Linked DNA regions of Homo sapiens. The protein of the gene in region 1 purifies or fractionates together with the protein of each later gene. This does not show direct contact. Each region holds a gene or a part of one and is shown in the gene's direction. Other genes may lie near its edges.

What was found.
Region 2: the proteins of HLF (region 1) and TLK1 purify together in Homo sapiens (affinity purification with mass spectrometry; 2 studies listed by BioGRID and IntAct, with this or other methods). This does not show direct contact.

Annotation. Positions count from the first base shown.
Region 1 is NC_000017.11:55,315,335-55,325,723, forward strand, and holds the end of HLF (hepatic leukemia factor), read left to right. Parts: coding exon 1-113; intron 114-5,326; coding exon of another isoform or gene 5,327-5,329; coding exon 5,330-5,545; 3' UTR 5,546-9,853; downstream 9,854-10,389.
Region 2 is NC_000002.12:170,987,986-170,997,945, reverse strand, and holds the end of TLK1 (serine/threonine-protein kinase tousled-like 1), read left to right. Parts: intron 1-122; coding exon 123-234; intron 235-1,185; coding exon 1,186-1,293; intron 1,294-3,989; coding exon 3,990-4,166; 3' UTR 4,167-7,123; downstream 7,124-9,960. UniProt on the Homo sapiens protein: Rapidly and transiently inhibited by phosphorylation following the generation of DNA double-stranded breaks during S-phase. This is cell cycle checkpoint and ATM-pathway dependent and appears to regulate processes involved in chromatin assembly.

The DNA of each region.
Region 1 (10,389 bases):
TCCCTGGCCAGGAAATGTTTGACCCTCGCAAACGCAAGTTCTCTGAGGAAGAACTGAAGCCACAGCCCATGATCAAGAAAGCTCGCAAAGTCTTCATCCCTGATGACCTGAAGGTAAATTGGAACTGGTAATCAGTCTTTGGGCAAATGGAGAGTGGGATCCACAGACAGATTAAAAGGGTGACCCCAGGATGATCCCAGAAGCTAGTGCATGAAGGATTTCTGATTTCTGATCCTGTTTCTTGGCATGTGACTTCTAGGCCAGTTGTTTCCTCTCTGGGTATTTTTTGAAATGCACTTTTATGTCTTGATGCTGAACAGAAACAAGGAGAAGCAGTAAAATGTTGGAGTGATTTTAAACCCATGAAGGAAACAAACCTGCTCCTATCTGCATGGAAACCCACAAAAGTCTAATAAAATTAAACCCCACATCTTTCAAGGTTGAGAAGAGAAAGAAAATCATTTGAGAAGGGCATCTGAACCTCATTGCCCTCGAAGGGTTACCTTCCTTTTAGAAAATTTTTGATAATTTGCTGCTGCCATTTCCCTGTAGGCTGCGAGGAATAACAGCCAGAGATAGGACCTTCCTCCATATTGCCAACCTTGGATGACCAGGGTGGGATTTTGTGAAGGAAACTGGTAGTTCCCTGACACCATTTATATGTATCTTAAGTAACGATCACTTGAATATCTCACCGCTAGATTAATTCTAAGTAGGTTTTCTCTGCAGTGTTGAAGGGACACCTTATTTATAAAGGGAAATAGATTTACCTTGGAAGTCAAATACAGCTTAAAACAAAATTAACCAGACACAATAATGACATCTTAGGATGAAAATTCTTTCCAAAATTATGCCATGTCTGCTAATGCCAAAATAGAACCATTTCTTATTAACCATTGCTTAGAACTTTCATGCTTCTTTCCAATCATGTGGGTACTAGAGATATGATTATTATGTAGTCAAGGCCTTGGAACCAGGCATAATTAGCCCTTTTCTACTGTCTGCCCCCCATCTCTCAAACCTAACTATTGTTCCTATGTAGAGACACTCCTAGGCTGGGAAATAGGAATTTGAGACAACGTCTGAACTGGCTTAGACCAGTTGTTCCTGCTTTACATAGCTAGAAAAAATGCTGGAAGCAGAAGTACCTGGCAAATTTAAATCACTGCTGTCATCCACATTCCTGAGATTACCTTAATTGATGCAGAATAGGAAAACATCAGGGCTGAAGGGGACCTTAGAGATTCATTTGTCCAAAATTACCACTTGCAGTTGAGGAAATGCAGAAAATGGAAAGCTGAAGTCAGCGGATCACTACCTGTTAGAGAAAGGCTTAGCCTGGCTCCCAGGTTGTCTTGCTTCCCAAAAGGTCACAGCAGCATGTTGGCCCTGACAAGGGCTATAACGGGGGCCCATGGGTGACAAATCAATGGCTGTCACCCTGAGAATCAAAAAAGGAAATCACATGGTAAAAACACCAGAAAATCTAAACTAGTCAGGACATTGATGGTTAGACTGAGATGGGGTAAAAAAGGGGCACCATGGGCTCAGGTCTTGGGCAATTAGGTACCTTATTTCAATGAGATGCCTTTCCTAGTCTTGTCTTCTTAGTGATCCAATTTTTTATGGTGTTTTTTTTTTTTTTTTTTTTGAGATGGAGTCGCACTCTGTTGCCCAGGCTGGAGTGCAGTGGCACGATCTCAGCTCACTGCAAGCTCCGCCTCCCCGGTTCAAGCCATCCTCATGCCTTAGCCTCCTGAGTAACTGAGACTACAGGCGCACGCCACCACGCCCGGCTAATTTTTTGTATTTTTAGTAGAGACGGGATTTCACCGTGTTCGCCAGGATGGTCTCGATCTCCTGACCTTGTGATCTGCCCACCTCGGTCTTCCAAAGTGCTGGGATTACAGGTGTAAGCCACCGCGCCCGGCCTTTTTTGTGTATTTTAAAGCCTCGTATCTTAAACTAAAGCCAGGGATCCTGTTCAACCTGGATTTTCTCTTGAATGGAGGGTAGTTTGAAAGGATGCTGCTATGAGTGATAGACAGAACTTCCAGCCAGACTTTCACAAAGTCTCCAGATTTATCAAAGAGCAAGATTAGTTAATAACCCAGGTAACCTTGGCAACAAAGAGGCCAGACAAAAACCGTCTGTGCTGGAATTACACATATTGCTGCTGTCATGGTCAGGCCTGACCTTTCCACATAGCAGGTGGGGAATGGGCAGGAACATTGTCCTGCCAGGTGTCCTTGGATATTTTTTAGTTGTGGACGAAGTCTCAAACTAAAGACCATGAGCTAATATAAAGCAGGAAGCAGAGCTGTAACATGTTTCTCCTTCTGGCAGAAAGGTCTGAGCTAAGGGTAGATGGAGGAGAAGGTGTTTCTGGCCCCCAGCATTGGACAAGTAAACCAGTTCAATGAAATGGCCCCACTAAAAATGATCTTCCCTGTAGCTGCCTGAACTTCCTCTCTTGAGCCAATCATTAGGGTTAGCATGCATGCGCTGGAGAAAGAAGGGAGAATTGAGGTTGACATGCTGGGGTACCTAGCTGAAAATCCATTTAATTACCTTGATTTTTTAAATGCTTTTAATGGTCCATTCATTCACTTGATGAATTTTTTCAAATGCTAGTGTGTGCCAACCCTCTAACCCTGTATCAGGGGCTGGGAATACCGAGGTGAGCCAATACTGATACTGTTCCTGCCTTCATGGAACTTGTAGTCTGGTGAGAAACAGGGAGTGTTGATCTGTTGGGTGGGGCGGGGCTAAGTGGGTCCCTTGTTGCATGGAGGTAACTGGGTAGCCAGATGGCATCAGCAACTGGGAGAGGGAAAGGGGGCAGAGGATGGAGTGCCAAGTTTATCAGCCCCGCTCAAAATCCCGCTTCCCCCCTGCCCGCAACCCTTCTGCGATAACAAAGGGAGGCGAGCAGGCTTTTCTAGTCCAGGACACTCCTTTCGTCATTCCTGCCTTCTGTATCCTCTTCTGGACCCGGTTCCCAGCTCCCCTCCCTCCCACCTGAAAGGTTTGTTTTGCATTCCACACCTTGGCTGGCTCATCTGCATGTGTGGACAGGTGAGGCTGGGAAATGAGAGCACTTTAGAAGTGAGAAGAGCTCTAATAAGTTAGAGAGAAGTTGGTTGTTACCCTGAAGTCAGCTGGTGACTCCCTGGTCATTAAGACCTGGTCAGAATTGTCTTACACCACATCAAGCCTGTGGCCTATGGTGGGACCCCCCATTCCTCCCCCATCACATACATGCAGTTTCTACAGTGTTCCAGGGGCTTGTTCTTATGTACCCCTTCGCCTCCTGGGCTCCTGTTCCCCCGTGTGCAGACTCTGATACATCCTAAATCAAGTCCTCTTTTGAGTGCTCTTGGAAACCGCACTCCCAGGCACATTGTTGGGTATAGATTTACTGATACTGTGAAGGGATTGGAACCCAGGCTTCTATCAAAACACAAATAACTTCCATCAGAACTGGAGGCTTCACCACTGTTGTTAACTGGAGGCTTCACCACTTTGGGCCCCCTCACCACCATGACGTCATTGACTCGCCTGACTCCTCCCAGCCTCTCCCCTGCCTCCAGCTCCCCTGCTCGCTTTCAGAAGCACAGACAACAAATTCGGCCAACAACCATTGCACACCTGCCCTAGCTTGCTCACCCAGGTATTCTTCAAAGAGCAGCCTCCTCCCTCCTACCCAGAAGAATTCTGGTAACATCTATTTTGAAAATCGTTTTTTTACCCTGTTGCATATTGTTATGAAATGTATAAAAAGCTGGGGGTGCTTTATTTAAGATGATAGTACTAGTTTGTGGATGGCAGATAGGAGGTATCTACACAGTTTCTATCCCACACTTTCTGTATTTGTGCAGGGCAAATGCCTGTTGAGGGTAATGGGCAGTTTTGGGGGTGGACCGCTGACCTTAGACTTTCCTTGCAGCTTTGGCCCCAACCCATGTGACCTCCTTCAATGCCAACTGCCCCTTGGAATTCTGAGGGGTGCAAGCACTGGCCTGACCCATTTATTCTGGGTGGCATGTAACTGCAGGTAGTAGCATTGCTAGGACTGAGGGATTTGCTGTTGCAAATTGTTGAAAAAGGGGAGTTGCAAAATTCACCAGGTGCCACCATCAGTGAATTGGGAAGATCTAAAAGAAGATCCCTGTTTCTTAGTCTTCTTAAGAAGTTTTTCCTTTCTGTCAGGGAGGCAGCAGTGGGGGTGGAGGGCAGGGAAGGAGGGATTGTTTTTACACTGACCACAGTAAAATATTACTCAGGCTAATTAAGGCCTAGAGAATGGTTAAACAAGAAATTAGAGTAAATTATGTAAATTCTGGCCACCAATATGAGTACATTGATTAGCGGCAGGTTGAAGATTTTTTTTTTTAATTTCTATTTTTAATTACCAAAGTGTATGTATCTATTATATGATATTGTAATAGTTCAGAATAATATAAAAGGTAGAAAGTCTTACATCTTTGCCTCTGCCAATCCCCCTTCTAGAGGCTCCACCTTTATAGATTAGTATAAATCTTTTTGCGCCTCTTTCTATGAATATATGATTTTTAATCAAACTGGGATGAGACCATACATATTTGTGTGTAAACTGTCATTGTTTCCACCCACATAGTGGCATATCATATGAACATCTTTCTGGTGCAGGTGGGTCATTATTTTTAACAGCTGCCAAGTATCCCTTTGTATGACTGTATCATAACGTGGTTGTTAAATCTCCTATGCATAGTTTTTCCTCATTTTTTCTACTGCACATAATGCTGCAGTGAACAGTTTATGCTTGTGTGTACATGCACATGTATGGAGATTGCTACAGGACAAAATCCTGGAAGTGGAGTGCTAGATGAATAGTATATCCATTTAAATAGTTGATAGATATTGCCAAATTGCCTTCTAAAATTTTTGTACCAACTCATACCCAAAAAAGCATATGAGTGCCCTTGAAGGAAAAGGGTTCTTAAAATGTTGAGCAGGGAGAGTAAAGAAAGTTGAAATGTAATTTAAGGGTGAGGTGAGCCACCTGCTTTCATCCAGCCTCTGATCTCTGCTTCACTGAGCACGCCTCTGCTGGGCAAAGAGTAGGAGCCTGTTGGGACAGATCGGTGGGTCCTTGCTCCAAGAAGGAAGTGTGGCTCATGGGCCACACTCTCAGACATGCAGAAACTGTAAAGGAAGGAGACACAAGCTAAGAAACCCGGGCTGGCACCTCTGCACAATCCTGGAGCCTGCCCGTGCCCTGGCTGGCACTGGGCTTTGCTGAAATCTAATATCTTGTTTCTTTTTCCCTTCTGTAACTAATGAGCAGGATGACAAGTACTGGGCAAGGCGCAGAAAGAACAACATGGCAGCCAAGCGCTCCCGCGACGCCCGGAGGCTGAAAGAGAACCAGATCGCCATCCGGGCCTCGTTCCTGGAGAAGGAGAACTCGGCCCTCCGCCAGGAGGTGGCTGACTTGAGGAAGGAGCTGGGCAAATGCAAGAACATACTTGCCAAGTATGAGGCCAGGCACGGGCCCCTGTAGGATGGCATTTTTGCAGGCTGGCTTTGGAATAGATGGACAGTTTGTTTCCTGTCTGATAGCACCACACGCAAACCAACCTTTCTGACATCAGCACTTTACCAGAGGCATAAACACAACTGACTCCCATTTTGGTGTGCATCTGTGTGTGTGTGCGTGTATATGTGCTTGTGCTCATGTGTGTGGTCAGCGGTATGTGCGTGTGCGTGTTCCTTTGCTCTTGCCATTTTAAGGTAGCCCTCTCATCGTCTTTTAGTTCCAACAAAGAAAGGTGCCATGTCTTTACTAGACTGAGGAGCCCTCTCGCGGGTCTCCCATCCCCTCCCTCCTTCACTCCTGCCTCCTCAGCTTTGCTTCATGTTCGAGCTTACCTACTCTTCCAGGACTCTCTGCTTGGATTCACTAAAAAGGGCCCTGGTAAAATAGTGGATCTCAGTTTTTAAGAGTACAAGCTCTTGTTTCTGTTTAGTCCGTAAGTTACCATGCTAATGAGGTGCACACAATAACTTAGCACTACTCCGCAGCTCTAGTCCTTTATAAGTTGCTTTCCTCTTACTTTCAGTTTTGGTGATAATCGTCTTCAAATTAAAGTGCTGTTTAGATTTATTAGATCCCATATTTACTTACTGCTATCTACTAAGTTTCCTTTTAATTCTACCAACCCCAGATAAGTAAGAGTACTATTAATAGAACACAGAGTGTGTTTTTGCACTGTCTGTACCTAAAGCAATAATCCTATTGTACGCTAGAGCATGCTGCCTGAGTATTACTAGTGGACGTAGGATATTTTCCCTACCTAAGAATTTCACTGTCTTTTAAAAAACAAAAAGTAAAGTAATGCATTTGAGCATGGCCAGACTATTCCCTAGGACAAGGAAGCAGAGGGAAATGGGAGGTCTAAGGATGAGGGGTTAATTTATCAGTACATGAGCCAAAAACTGCGTCTTGGATTAGCCTTTGACATTGATGTGTTCGGTTTTGTTGTTCCCCTTCCCTCACACCCTGCCTCGCCCCCACTTTTCTAGTTAACTTTTTCCATATCCCTCTTGACATTCAAAACAGTTACTTAAGATTCAGTTTTCCCACTTTTTGGTAATATATATATTTTTGTGAATTATACTTTGTTGTTTTTAAAAAGAAAATCAGTTGATTAAGTTAATAAGTTGATGTTTTCTAAGGCCCTTTTTCCTAGTGGTGTCATTTTTGAATGCCTCATAAATTAATGATTCTGAAGCTTATGTTTCTTATTCTCTGTTTGCTTTTGAACGTATGTGCTCTTATAAAGTGGACTTCTGAAAAATGAATGTAAAAGACACTGGTGTATCTCAGAAGGGGATGGTGTTGTCACAAACTGTGGTTAATCCAATCAATTTAAATGTTTACTATAGACCAAAAGGAGAGATTATTAAATCGTTTAATGTTTATACAGAGTAATTATAGGAAGTTCTTTTTTGTACAGTATTTTTCAGATATAAATACTGACAATGTATTTTGGAAGACATATATTATATATAGAAAAGAGGAGAGGAAAACTATTCCATGTTTTAAAATTATATAGCAAAGATATATATTCACCAATGTTGTACAGAGAAGAAGTGCTTGGGGGTTTTTGAAGTCTTTAATATTTTAAGCCCTATCACTGACACATCAGCATGTTTTCTGCTTTAAATTAAAATTTTATGACAGTATCGAGGCTTGTGATGACGAATCCTGCTCTAAAATACACAAGGAGCTTTCTTGTTTCTTATTAGGCCTCAGAAAGAAGTCAGTTAACGTCACCCAAAAGCACAAAATGGATTTTAGTCAAATATTTATTGGATGATACAGTGTTTTTTAGGAAAAGCATCTGCCACAAAAATGTTCACTTCGAAATTCTGAGTTCCTGGAATGGCACGTTGCTGCCAGTGCCCCAGACAGTTCTTTTCTACCCTGCGGGCCCGCACGTTTTATGAGGTTGATATCGGTGCTATGTGTTTGGTTTATAATTTGATAGATGTTTGACTTTAAAGATGATTGTTCTTTTGTTTCATTAAGTTGTAAAATGTCAAGAAATTCTGCTGTTACGACAAAGAAACATTTTACGCTAGATTAAAATATCCTTTCATCAATGGGATTTTCTAGTTTCCTGCCTTCAGAGTATCTAATCCTTTAATGATCTGGTGGTCTCCTCGTCAATCCATCAGCAATGCTTCTCTCATAGTGTCATAGACTTGGGAAACCCAACCAGTAGGATATTTCTACAAGGTGTTCATTTTGTCACAAGCTGTAGATAACAGCAAGAGATGGGGGTGTATTGGAATTGCAATACATTGTTCAGGTGAATAATAAAATCAAAAACTTTTGCAATCTTAAGCAGAGATAAATAAAAGATAGCAATATGAGACACAGGTGGACGTAGAGTTGGCCTTTTTACAGGCAAAGAGGCGAATTGTAGAATTGTTAGATGGCAATAGTCATTAAAAACATAGAAAAATGATGTCTTTAAGTGGAGAATTGTGGAAGGATTGTAACATGGACCATCCAAATTTATGGCCGTATCAAATGGTAGCTGAAAAAACTATATTTGAGCACTGGTCTCTCTTGGAATTAGATGTTTATATCAAATGAGCATCTCAAATGTTTTCTGCAGAAAAAAATAAAAAGATTCTAATAAAATGTATTCTCTTGTGTGCCAGGAGAGGTTTCAGAAACCTACCTCGTCTTACAAATTTAAACACTTTGGAGTCTGTACAGGTGCCTTATATGTAGGTCATTGTCACGATACACACACACGAACACTCCCTCTGGACTGGCTGCCTCTCCATCCAGGGCAGTTAACTAGCAAACAAGGCAGATCTGCTTCATGGAGCGGGAGGCCATGGCTTGACTCTGAGTGATTTGGGTCAACCGGAGTCAGACGCATGTCTGCACGCTGCAGCTATTATGAGAGTCCCTTTGTCATTTTTCACCTTTTCATCCTAAGCATCTTTCAGAGATTAATTATTTGGCCATTAACAATGAATCCAAATCATATCATACTGACATCATCTAGACATGATTTGGAAGGAACAGCTTAGGACCTCCTGATGAGGTCACATTGTTGTTTCTTTTAACTAGACTTGGCAAAGAAAGGCAAAAATTGACCAGCCTATCTTTCTGCTGGTGCTGCCTTAAGGAGGTAGTTTGTTGAGGGGAGGGCTGTAGATCATTACTTCTTTCTCTTCAGGAAGTGGCCACTTTGAACCATTCAAATACCACATTAGGCAAGACTGTGATAGGCCTTTTGTCTTCAAATACAACAGGCCTCCACTGACCCATCCCTCAAAGCAGAAGGACCCTTTGAGGAGAGTACAGATGGGATTCCACAGTGGGGTGGGTGGAATGGAAACCTGTACTAGACCACCCAGAGGTTCCTTCTAACCCACTGGTTTGGTGGGGAACTCACAGTAATTCCAAATGTACAATCAGATGTCTAGGGTCTGTTTTCGGAAGAAGCAAGAATTATCAGTGGCACCCTCCCCACTGCCCCCAGTGTAAAACAATAGACATTCTGTGAAATGCAAAGCTATTCTTTGGTTTTTCTAGTAGTTTATCTCATTTTACCCTATTCTTCCTTTAAGGAAAACTCAATCTTTATCACAGTCAATTAGAGCGATCCCAAGGCATGGGACCAGGCCTGCTTGCCTATGTGTGATGGCAATTGGAGATCTGGATTTAGCACTGGGGTCTCAGCACCCTGCAGGTGTCTGAGACTAAGTGATCTGCCCTCCAGGTGGCGATCACCTTCTGCTCCTAGGTACCCCCACTGGCAAGGCCAAGGTCTCCTCCACGTTTTTTCTGCAATTAATAATGTCATTTAAAAAATGAGCAAAGCCTTATCCGAATCGGATATAGCAACTAAAGTCAATACATTTTGCAGGAGGCTAAGTGTAAGAGTGTGTGTGTGTGTGTGTGCGTGCATGTGTGTGTGTGTGTATGTGTGTGAATAAGTCGACATAAAGTCTTTAATTTTGAGCACCTTACCAAACATAACAATAATCCATTATCCTTTTGGCAACACCACAAAGATCGCATCTGTTAAACAGGTACAAGTTGACATGAGGTTAGTTTAATTGTACACCATGATATTGGTGGTATTTATGCTGTTAAGTCCAAACCTTTATCTGTCTGTTATTCTTAATGTTGAATAAACTTTGAATTTTTTCCTTTCTTTCATGTATTTTTATTAACAGTTGGCTAGCAATGGTATTCTGTTCCCACCTCGGTAGCAAAGAGACCATTTGTAGAGATTATTACCTAGATAATAAAATGATAATACTATATAATTAGTAATAAATTAACATTTATTGGGTAGTTATGTGCCAGACACTGTGCTAAACACTTAGATGGAATATTTTATTCCATATTAGCTCTATGAGGTAGGGACAATTATTATCCCCATTTACAGAAGACAAAATGGAAAGTTAGGAGAGTCACGTAGCTTACCTAATGTTACAGAGGTAAAAGTGGCTGAGATGAATTCTGATCCCTGGAGTGGGCATTATTTAGAGGGGTGGTTCCCAAAAGCCAGTCCACAGACTGTCTTGTTCTCTAATATATAAAGAATAATTCAGCAACATCTAGGAGTATAAATCCAGAGATTCTGAATCAGTAGTTCTTGGATGGGGCCCAGAAATCTGAATTTTTAAACTGATCCCAGCCAACTTCCATCTGCAGCCAAGTAATTGGTGTCAAGGATTTATAGACTTGGCTCTTAATTCAAGTTCATGACCCTTGGGGGATCCACGCAGAGGCTTCAGAGATGCCATAATTATCTGAAATTGTATGCAACTTTTTATGTATAAACATTTATTTTGCTGTAGAGAAGA
Region 2 (9,960 bases), on another chromosome or scaffold:
CACTGATGGGAGTCCTAGAGTTTATATATGAATAAAATTCGTGTTCTAAGATTTTACACTTAGAAGATTTTAAGTTACAGATTGTCAGTAGTAACCTTTTTTCTCTCCCACAAAACTTACAGGTATTTACCTCCTGAGTGTTTTGTAGTTGGAAAAGAGCCACCAAAGATTTCCAACAAGGTTGATGTATGGTCGGTTGGAGTCATCTTCTTTCAGTGTCTTTATGGTAGAAAGGTAAATTGAATTCTACCAGCCTTCAGCTCTACAGAGATAAATTAAGTTGAATTTTTCCTTCTTAAAAGCAAAATTTCACTAACTTAAAGTCAATTTAGATCCTTCTAAAGAAAGCCAGGCTTCTCCTCTATTTCTTCCTAAAATTTCCATGGATCAGAATTATTTTAATGTCACACCAGTTTACTTGACCTACTTTTTGCTTTCTTTCCTTTTTTTAAGAAAAGAAGTAACTATCTGTTAACATGCTAATATTTGTCTGCTATTGGGAATACTGGAGTCAATACTTTTCATTATCCACCATTCACTTGACCTCCTCTTACACCCCCCACCCCACCCACACACACAGTTTGGCCTGGGTGGGCAGTTTCCCCGTTGCTCATCAGGGAAATACCATCAAACTTAGTCTTATTTCCCAACTTCTTTTTATATTGAAGTTGGAAGTGCAGGTTACCATAAATATTAACTAGCCCACATCCCACCCCATCCCTTCATCAATAGGGGAAGAGAGGTTAAGGGATTTGTGTGGGATCTCCTCACTCCAAATCCAGAGCTCCTTCATTTAAATTCGCCTGTGATGCACACAGTATTTTATTCTTTGGAAATTGTCATAGACATTTTCATTACTACTTCATCTCTTCTCTAACTGAACTTCATTGTTTATTCAGAATAAAGTTTTAAATTTATGTTTTTATCTTATATTGCAACAGCATTATTTTCTTCTTCTTACAGTGTTTAATCTATGTTGAAGATCTGTTAGGTAGGCTTTCTTGGCCTGCTATCAATTATAGCTTGTTTGTATGAGAATTCATCTCAGGTTTCAAATAACTGAGGAAGATTTTAGAACACAAGATATTTGGATTTTCGGTTTTGGGAATTCGCTTAAACAGAAATGATATCTGTGTTTAAATATTTTGTGAGAAAAGTATCTCAACATTTAATTTTTTTTTTAAGCCATTTGGTCACAATCAATCTCAACAAGACATTCTTCAAGAAAATACAATATTAAAAGCCACAGAAGTCCAGTTCCCTGTAAAACCGGTTGTAAGCAGTGAAGCCAAGGTATTAAATTTTTGTAAATGAGTTTTGTGAAGTAACTTTTCTTTCATCAGTTGTGCTGACAACAAGGTAAGTACTTTCCAGTAAGTAAAGTCACAAGACTCGCTGCTGCAGGGGATCTGTCCAGCAGGGGCTGGTGATTTACTTTCAGAGAAGGAGTTGCATCAGCCTCTGGTTGCTATAGTTTTTATCTTTTAAGCTATGGTCTCTGATTGTTTATGTTCATCAGCTGCTACTTTGAAAATTAGGGAAAAATCACAAGATCTGGGCTCATCATTACCTTTTATGTATTATTTTATCTGCTTATGTTAATACTGAGATATATAAGTATATAAGAAATATTAAAAGTAATAATAAGGCTGGGCGTGGTGGCTCACACCTGTAATCCCAGCACTTTGGGAGGCCAAGGCGGGCAGATCATCTGAGGTCAGGAGTTTGAGACCAGCCTGACCAACATGGTGAAACCCGGTCTCTACTAAAAATACAAAAATTAGCCAGGCGTGGTGGCACACATCTAGAGTCTCAGTTGCTTGGGAGTCTGAGGTGGGAGGATCACCTGAGCTCAGGGAGGTCAAGGCTGCAGTGAGCCATGACGATACCGCTGCACTCAAACCTGGGGGACAGAGTGACACCCTGTCTCAAAAAAACCAAATAGGCCATGCGCGGTGGCTCACACCTGTAATCCAGCAATTTGGGAGGCCCAGGCAGGCAGATTGCCTGAGCCCAGGAGTTCGAGACCAGCCTGGGCAACATGGTGAAACCCCATCTCTACTAAAAATACAAAAATTAGCCCGGTGTAGGGGCCCGTGCCTTTAGTTTCAGCTTCTCAGGATGCTGAGCTGGGAGGATCGCTTGAGACCAAGAGGTAGAGGTTGCAGTGAGGTGAGATCGCACCACTGCACTCCTGCATGGGCGACATAGCAAGACCCATTCTCAAAAAAACAAAAGAGATAAATATTCTTATTTGAAAGCAAAATGAATTATTTTTGTAAGATAAATATGACTCCTTTAAAAATATTTTAACTGTGCTGACATCTAAATCTTGTCTTATTTTCTGTCTGTAGCCTCATTGAGAACAGAAATTAAATGAATTTAGTTGATTCATGATCTGTTTGTTTAATACTGACTGAAAAGACCAGGAGGAGTGGAGTTGCCAAAGGCAAAGTCTCATTTAGCCATTCCTGGTTCTCTCCTTAGGCTCTTAATAGGCACCACAGTCACCTTTTAGAGATCTGGAATCCAGGAAGGGTTAAGGGGTTGTTGGGGGGATATAATATTAATATGATACAATTATATGATATAAATTTTAATATTTTAATGTAATATATAATATCTCTATATTCTGTATCCCTACAGAAGATACCTTTGCCAAGTACTTTCCCTGACTTGGTGTGGGCATCTTTAAGTACATTATTTGTTGCAGACTTAACCTTAACCTTGCTATTGATAGCCTTTCCACTCCTCAAACTCTAACATATCAGTCTTGATGTTTTTTTCCCTCTTAATCATTTTTCAAAGTGATCTCTGAAACTTTGTTAAAGATAAAAAAGATAAGTCCTCTAAGGGATCAGATTGACTTCCAATAAACAGTAAGCTATGGTAAAATGAGAATAGCTAGGTATATTTTTAGAGAAAAATATACTTCTAATGAATTTCAAAGCAAAGAAAGTGCAAAATAGTTACCTTTTAATGTGATTATACTTCTGTTTAATGGTATGTATTAATTTCTAGTGTCAGCATTAAGAAAGGGAAACAATTACCAGTTACCTCCTGAGAATATTTTATCTGTTCCCTCCCCCCCCAAAAAAGGATGAACCTCAAAATTTAATATTGGGTGAAAGAGGCCTGGCAAAGGAGAACATAATTTATAATTCTATTTATATAAAATTCAAACAATCAAAACTCAACTATGGTTTTAGAAGTCAAGATAAAGGTTAACCCAGGTTCGACTGGGGACAGAGCCAGTGCCTGGAACTGGGCATGAGGGGGATTCAGAGGTTCTTTTTCTTGATCTGGTTGCCAGTTACATAGATGTATTTACTTTGTGCTATGCACTTAACGATTTGTGTGCATTTCTAAAAATGTGTTACACTTCAGGAAAGGTTTTTTTTTTTTTTGTAAGAGGCTATTCTCAAAGAAAAACTGAGTAAAATTGGTTTGAGAAAAAAAAAATAGTGATTATATTCTGTTTATTTAGCTTTTCCAGGAGTGTAATGATGCATAGGGTTAACCTGGGAAACAATGTCCCTAATGAAAGTGTCCCTTCAGTGATCTCTTCATCTAAAGAAAGTCTTTATGTCAGTAGGAAAAAAAAATAATGGTTGAAAATGGCATCTTACCCTTTGCTAAACTGAAGTGATAACAAAATGGGATGAGGGTGGGAGGACTGTTTAGCAGAAGAAAAATGCTAGAAAAAAGTCTTCAGAATTTCGTAAGCAGAAACAACTTTCCAGTATAAGTTCAAATGGTTGCAGTAGTAATTTAGACTGTAAAGTGAACCACTGCAGGGGCTTCAAGCAGTGAGTTGCATTTGGAGTGAGAATTTTCTAGCTACAGAATTTTTTTTTTAAGGTTTGAACTTCCAATAAAATGAGATCTACTTATGTCTTAAATGTGTCCATCCTTCTGCTGATTCAGTTGATTGATATTTAGAAGGGAAAAAGATCATTAATTGCTAACATTTCCTTTCTCTTTTTGAGGCATTTATAAGACGCTGTTTGGCATATCGAAAAGAAGATCGATTTGATGTGCACCAGCTGGCAAATGACCCATACCTTCTCCCACACATGAGAAGATCAAATTCTTCAGGAAACCTACACATGGCTGGGCTGACAGCATCCCCTACACCCCCTTCTTCAAGCATAATTACTTACTGACTTTCCTCCAAGATTGGCATGATATCTTTGAATTTGCTTCCAGATGCACACTTAAGTTTGAGAGCATTTGAGTGTTTGTTTTCTTTTTCTTTTTTTTTTTTTTTTTTTTTTACACAAGACGTGGTTAAGAACTGTTTGTGAACTGAAGTTCCTCATAGTGTCATTTGTATGAGAGAGGATCATGGACAATGAATAAATGCACACTTCTGACTATAATTTTGAGCAGTGAAGGAAGGATGACTGCCTGTTACACAGAAACAGGAATACCATGTTAAGATAGAGGAAAAAAATTTTGTTTATTTGGGGGAACACTGTAAATAACGTTTATAATACTTAAATACATTTGGTTGTTACTAGAGAGTTCTAATATGAAGGGTAGTTTTTCATTATTTAAAAACACATGGAAAAATATGAGACATATTTCTAACATACGAACTATAGTGCCTGGATACATTCTTCAGCATTTGGCAGTTAATCTGCTGAAACCAAAGTAAGAACTGAATGACAGTGACAGTTGTGTTTTATAGTAATAGAATGTGAGAGTTAGAATCTTTGGACAAAGTTAGGCTTTGTCATTTGCCTATTCAGACTTTTACCAAGTTGTACCTCGAGATCACATGTCCGTTTTCTTTCACTGGTTATATTAAAGGGAGAGCTATTATTTCTAAATACTTTACACCTTTGACAAAATGAGCTGCTTGTGTTGAAATCAGTTGAATTCACTAAATTATAATATTGCCAGTGTTTTCAACACGTTAGAATTGATAACAGGTATTTTTCTTTTGTTACCAGGCCTTGTTCATCAAAACAGGTGACAGTGAGTAACCAAATGCAGACCAGTTCTATGCAGGATAATGATAAATTCCCTTCTAGCTCTATTGTAAATTGTTGTACAGATGTCATATTTCAATTACTAAGTTTCAGCAGCTTATTCTTGTACAAATGTTTAAAATATGGCTTTTCTAATTGGATATTGTATTTTTTTTAAGTCTTCTTGAAGGCACTCTAATTGCTGCTAAATGATGTTGCTTCTTTGCTAAAAAATTAAATGACCTAGAAGGTGCAAGTTGACTGTACATCATAGATATTAAAAAGCAGACAGTCATTAACAATCAAGATGTAAAAGTGATCCATGTTGGACATAATTGAGTTTTTAAATCAGTTTATTGGGTTCTAGGGCTGTAGAACACATAGATACTAGATTTTTAATTTGTTCATGGTTATTCTACATTTCTAGAAAGTTCTTATCAGCAAGATGGTCCCATAAGCAAATTTCTTGTGGTTTGTACAGATTTGTTAAAATGTGAACGTTTTCTAACTGCCTCGTAGGGTAGAAACCAATATTTTTCAGGATGCTGTATTTCACTCCTGTAAGGACTTTTTCTTTATTGTCACATTCATAATGCTGATACTTACATGTAAGTTGTTCATGTTGCAGAAAAAGGTTATACGTACCACGGATTCTCTTTAATATTGTACAGTTAAACTGTATTTCTGATGTTGCAAGCCATTTTGTTTTTTCATTGTACATAGACACATTGTCTCTTTAAAATGCTGCTGAAATTGTAGAGAGTATAGCCAAAACAGTAATAAACAATGACAGTTAAAATGTAAAGACTATGAAAATTACATTGGAAGGGAGCTTTCAAGATGGTAGGATATTGACTAACTGAGCTCCTTCACTTAAAAATCAGCTGAATAAATTCCTTAAGTATACTTCAAGACAAGTGTAAATTGTTTCAAGCTGTTAAAGTTAAACCTAATAACCATTATCAAGGCAACTCCTGGGTAAGTAACACTTAGAACCATCAAGAGTGGTTTAAGGGGCTGGCTATACCCATTCCTCTGTAGAGCACAGAGAAATCCTATTAAAAAAAAAATACTACATGGTAATGAAATCTTAGCATTGATTGAGTGCTTTACGTGCTGCCTGCAAGTTTTCAGTTTTGTTGTTAGAGTTTTCGTCTTTATGAATGATAAAGTCCTATGTTCATAAAGTAACATTTAAATTCCTGAACTAAAAGGAAATGCCTGTTGTGCTTAAAATTTTGGGGAGATACGAAGTGAATGTGTAAATCTAACTTTGAGGTTCAGTAAGTTAAGTAGTATAGACCTAGAGATCACTGCTTTACCATTTTACTTTCAAATGAATGAGAGCGACTGCTAGTGGCAGAACGCAGAAAAGGGGAAAAACAAGCCATGAAATGAAGTTGCTTTCCTGACCTGGGTTTAGGTCATCATTTTAAAATCAAAGATGTGTAGGAGATGAATCAACTTATAGACCCATATTTTCCTTCTAAAAGTTTCCCAAAGAAATGTTATAGATTTTGAATAACATGCCAGTGACCCAGCAGGTCCAAGATGGCTAACCAAGATGGCTAATTTAGCCACATTGAATAACTTACTTTTACCCTCACATGGAAAGTTGGTATCTATTGCTAAATGATTTCAAGGTCACTCTGACAGTCTTTGACACTGTTTTTTTTAGGGTTTTATTGTTTTCTGGTCTCCTGGTGTCTGTCCTCAGAATTAAAGCATGTCCTGCATCCCTAAGATGATAGCCAAGGCCTCTCTTTTATTAAGAGTCAGCACTGATGTAGGGTAAAATCAACAGTTTTTGCATATGATTTTAAAATCTTTCTTTGATTTGAATTTGCTTTAGTGTGTGCATGTTGAGAGGAAGTAAGTGTAGAAACCACCCTAATTTGTAAGTTGGGAGTTGGAGATACTTGGTGGTTTTTCAAAAATAAAGACTCAATCTTTTTTTTTTTTTTAAACACTCACTACCATCTCCTTCTAAAACAACTCTGTCAGTTTAAATGGCATATAAAATGTGAACAAACACCTCATTACATGAAGTCAAAATGGTGAAGAGCTTCAGTGAAACATTTAAAGAGTATATTGTGTGTTGTTTTGCTGTTCATCATTACTTATTAAATGCAGTAATGTTGATTGCCCTCATGCTATTAGCTGTGTTTTAGTTGTATAGTACAGTTCACCTAGATTAATTTACTCTTAAAATTTAATTACATTGCTGTTTGATTTTTGTGTGAATGTTATAACCTTACTTACACATTTAAAAGCCCATTGACAGGTCTTTCTTTAATTCTGCCTTAAGTTTTGACCTGTTAACTGATGATTTTTCATCTACATATACTAAATTTCAATGTTCTGAAGATTTAATCTAATTCAAAAAGTGCTTTTAGGCTGGCAGTGATGGCTCATACCTGTAATCCCAGCTCTTTGGGAGGCCAAGGCAGGTAAATCATTTGAGGTCAGGAGTTGGAGACCACCAGCCTGACCAACATGGTGAAACCCCATCTCTACTAAAAGTACAAAAAAATTAGCTGGGCATGGTGGTGCATACCTGTAATCTCAGCTACTCAGGAGGCTGAGGCAGGATAGTCACTTGAACCCCAGAGGCGCAGGTTGCAGTGAGCTGAGATCATACCTCTGCACTCCAGCCTGGGCGACAGGGTGAGACTCCATCTCAAAAATAAATAAATAAGTGCTTTTAGCAGCTAGTTTTAGAATTAAATTGGAATTCTAGTTCCTGTGTTTCAGTTCATTCTTCGGCAGTTTTAGAATTTATATAACTTGTTTTTCAATTTAAATTAGATGTATTTCCTACAACATAAACATCTCCATTTACCTTCCCCTACTTTCCCTTCATTTCTCTTTTTTGAGGATTCCTCCCCCACCCCGCCCCCTCTGGGAATTCTATAATTTTTGAAAAGGAAAGATTTGAGTAAATGTGTTTAAATCAACTTTTAAAGTTATTTGCAGAGAGCCAGAGAATGGGGTAGAAGAGTTACTTATAGTTAGGACAAAAATGCATGGCTTTCACCTGGAAATCTTCATTTGTCTAAAGTAATAGAGATGTGGATTATCTACACACATATGACTGGTTTTGTTTTTGTTTGAGACGGGGTTTCACTCTGTCACCCAGGCTGGAGTGCAGTGGTGTGATCTCAGCTCACTGCAACCTCTGCCTCCCGGGCTCAAGCTGGGACTACAGGCGTATGCCACCACGCCCAGCTACTTTTGTACTTTTTGTAGAGACGGGGTTTCACCATGTTGCACAGGCTGATCTCGAACTCCTGGGCTCAGGCGATCTACCTGCCTGGGCCTCGTAAAGTGCTGGGATTACAGGTGTGAGCCACAGTGCCTGGCCCATATGACTGTTTTAAGAAGGGCAATAAAATAGGTTAAGATATCAATTTTTTTGAACCAGAGTTTTTGGATTAAAATGTTGACTAACATTTACTACCTGTGTTTCTGGTTCCTCATCTGAAAATTAGGGTACAACTACCCATCATGCAGAGTGGCTGCAAGGAATGAATAAGTGAATTCACATATGTAACGCACTCAACCTTTACTTATATGCCCAGCTCATAAGTAGGTACTGTATATAATAAGCTGCTATTGTCATCATCCCTTTTTAAAACTCAAAAGATTATTCTATTAGCCCTATTTATAAAATTCAGTCTGCTTTGCTTCCTGTGGTAATTTTAATTATTTTAAGAAACACTTTCACAGTGCTTGACTCAGGTTTCAAACAAGTGATGATTAGATTGTCTGGAAATGGAAGGTGAGGAAATGTAGCAATTTGAAACAAAAAGTAGTAGCTGTGTGTGTGAACTAATTGCCAAAAGGATCATGCCCTATTGATGCTGTTTCATCACAGATATCTGTCATATTTTCCACAGTTTCCTTGCTAGTAACAACTGATTGAGGTAGGACAGATGACAGTATCCGTGTTCTACAAAGGAGGAAACAGATTTGGAGTGGGGGAATAACTTGGTAAAGCCACATAACTGGTAAGCACAGCTTTTGGAGTCGTGGAGCAAGGTTTTTAACTATGTTAACATCTTGGTATATAGTAAACATGGCGTAGTGAGTTAAATCTCATCATGACTCTTCAAAGGTGACAGCCAAATAGCTACAGACATTATTGTCATCTTTTTAAAAGCAAATCTAAAGATTTTTTTTTTTTTTTTTTTTGAAACAGGGTCTCTCTGAAACCCTGTTTTTTTGAAACACCCCTCTCTGAAACAGGGTCACTCAGGCTGGAGTGCAGTGGTGCAGCCTCAGCTCACTGCAGCCTTGACCTCCCGGGCTCAAGCAATCCTCCCACCTCAGCCTCTCAAGTAGCTGGGGCTACAGGTGCATGCCACCATACCCGGCTACTTTTTTTGTATTTTTTGCAGGGGCTCACCATGTTGTCCAGGCTGGTCTCGAACTGGGCCAAGTGATCCACCCACTTCAGTCTCCCAAAGTGCTAGAATTACAGATGTGACCCACATCACGCCTGACCTAAGAATTTTTCAAGTGTTAGATGAAGAATGCCATCTGAGCTGAGTCTTGTTGGCTGTGAGTCACTAGAGAGCAGAGCCCTGCCACAGACCCATTCTAGGTAAGAGGGAGAGTGGGCTGCACCTTTTTCTGTTCTTACATCTTTTTCCCTTGCCTTTTTAAGTCAAAGATCAGGTCCATCGATGAGCTACCCCACCCCATTCTACCTGTCTTACAGAAAGCACCTCATGGAGGTCTTCCTCTGCCCACTGTCACAGGCACAGAAAGTACTCCTGGTTCCTCTCCCCGCAGTGGTACCAGTTGCTCTTTTTTTTTTTTTTTTAAATGCTGGGTGCAGTGGCTCATGCCTGTAATCCCAGCACTTTGGGAGGCTGAGGCGGGTGGATCACCAGAGGTCAGGAGTTTCAGACCAGCCTGACCACCATGCAGAAACCCTGTCTCTACTAAAAATACAAAATTAGCCAGGTGTGGTGGCACA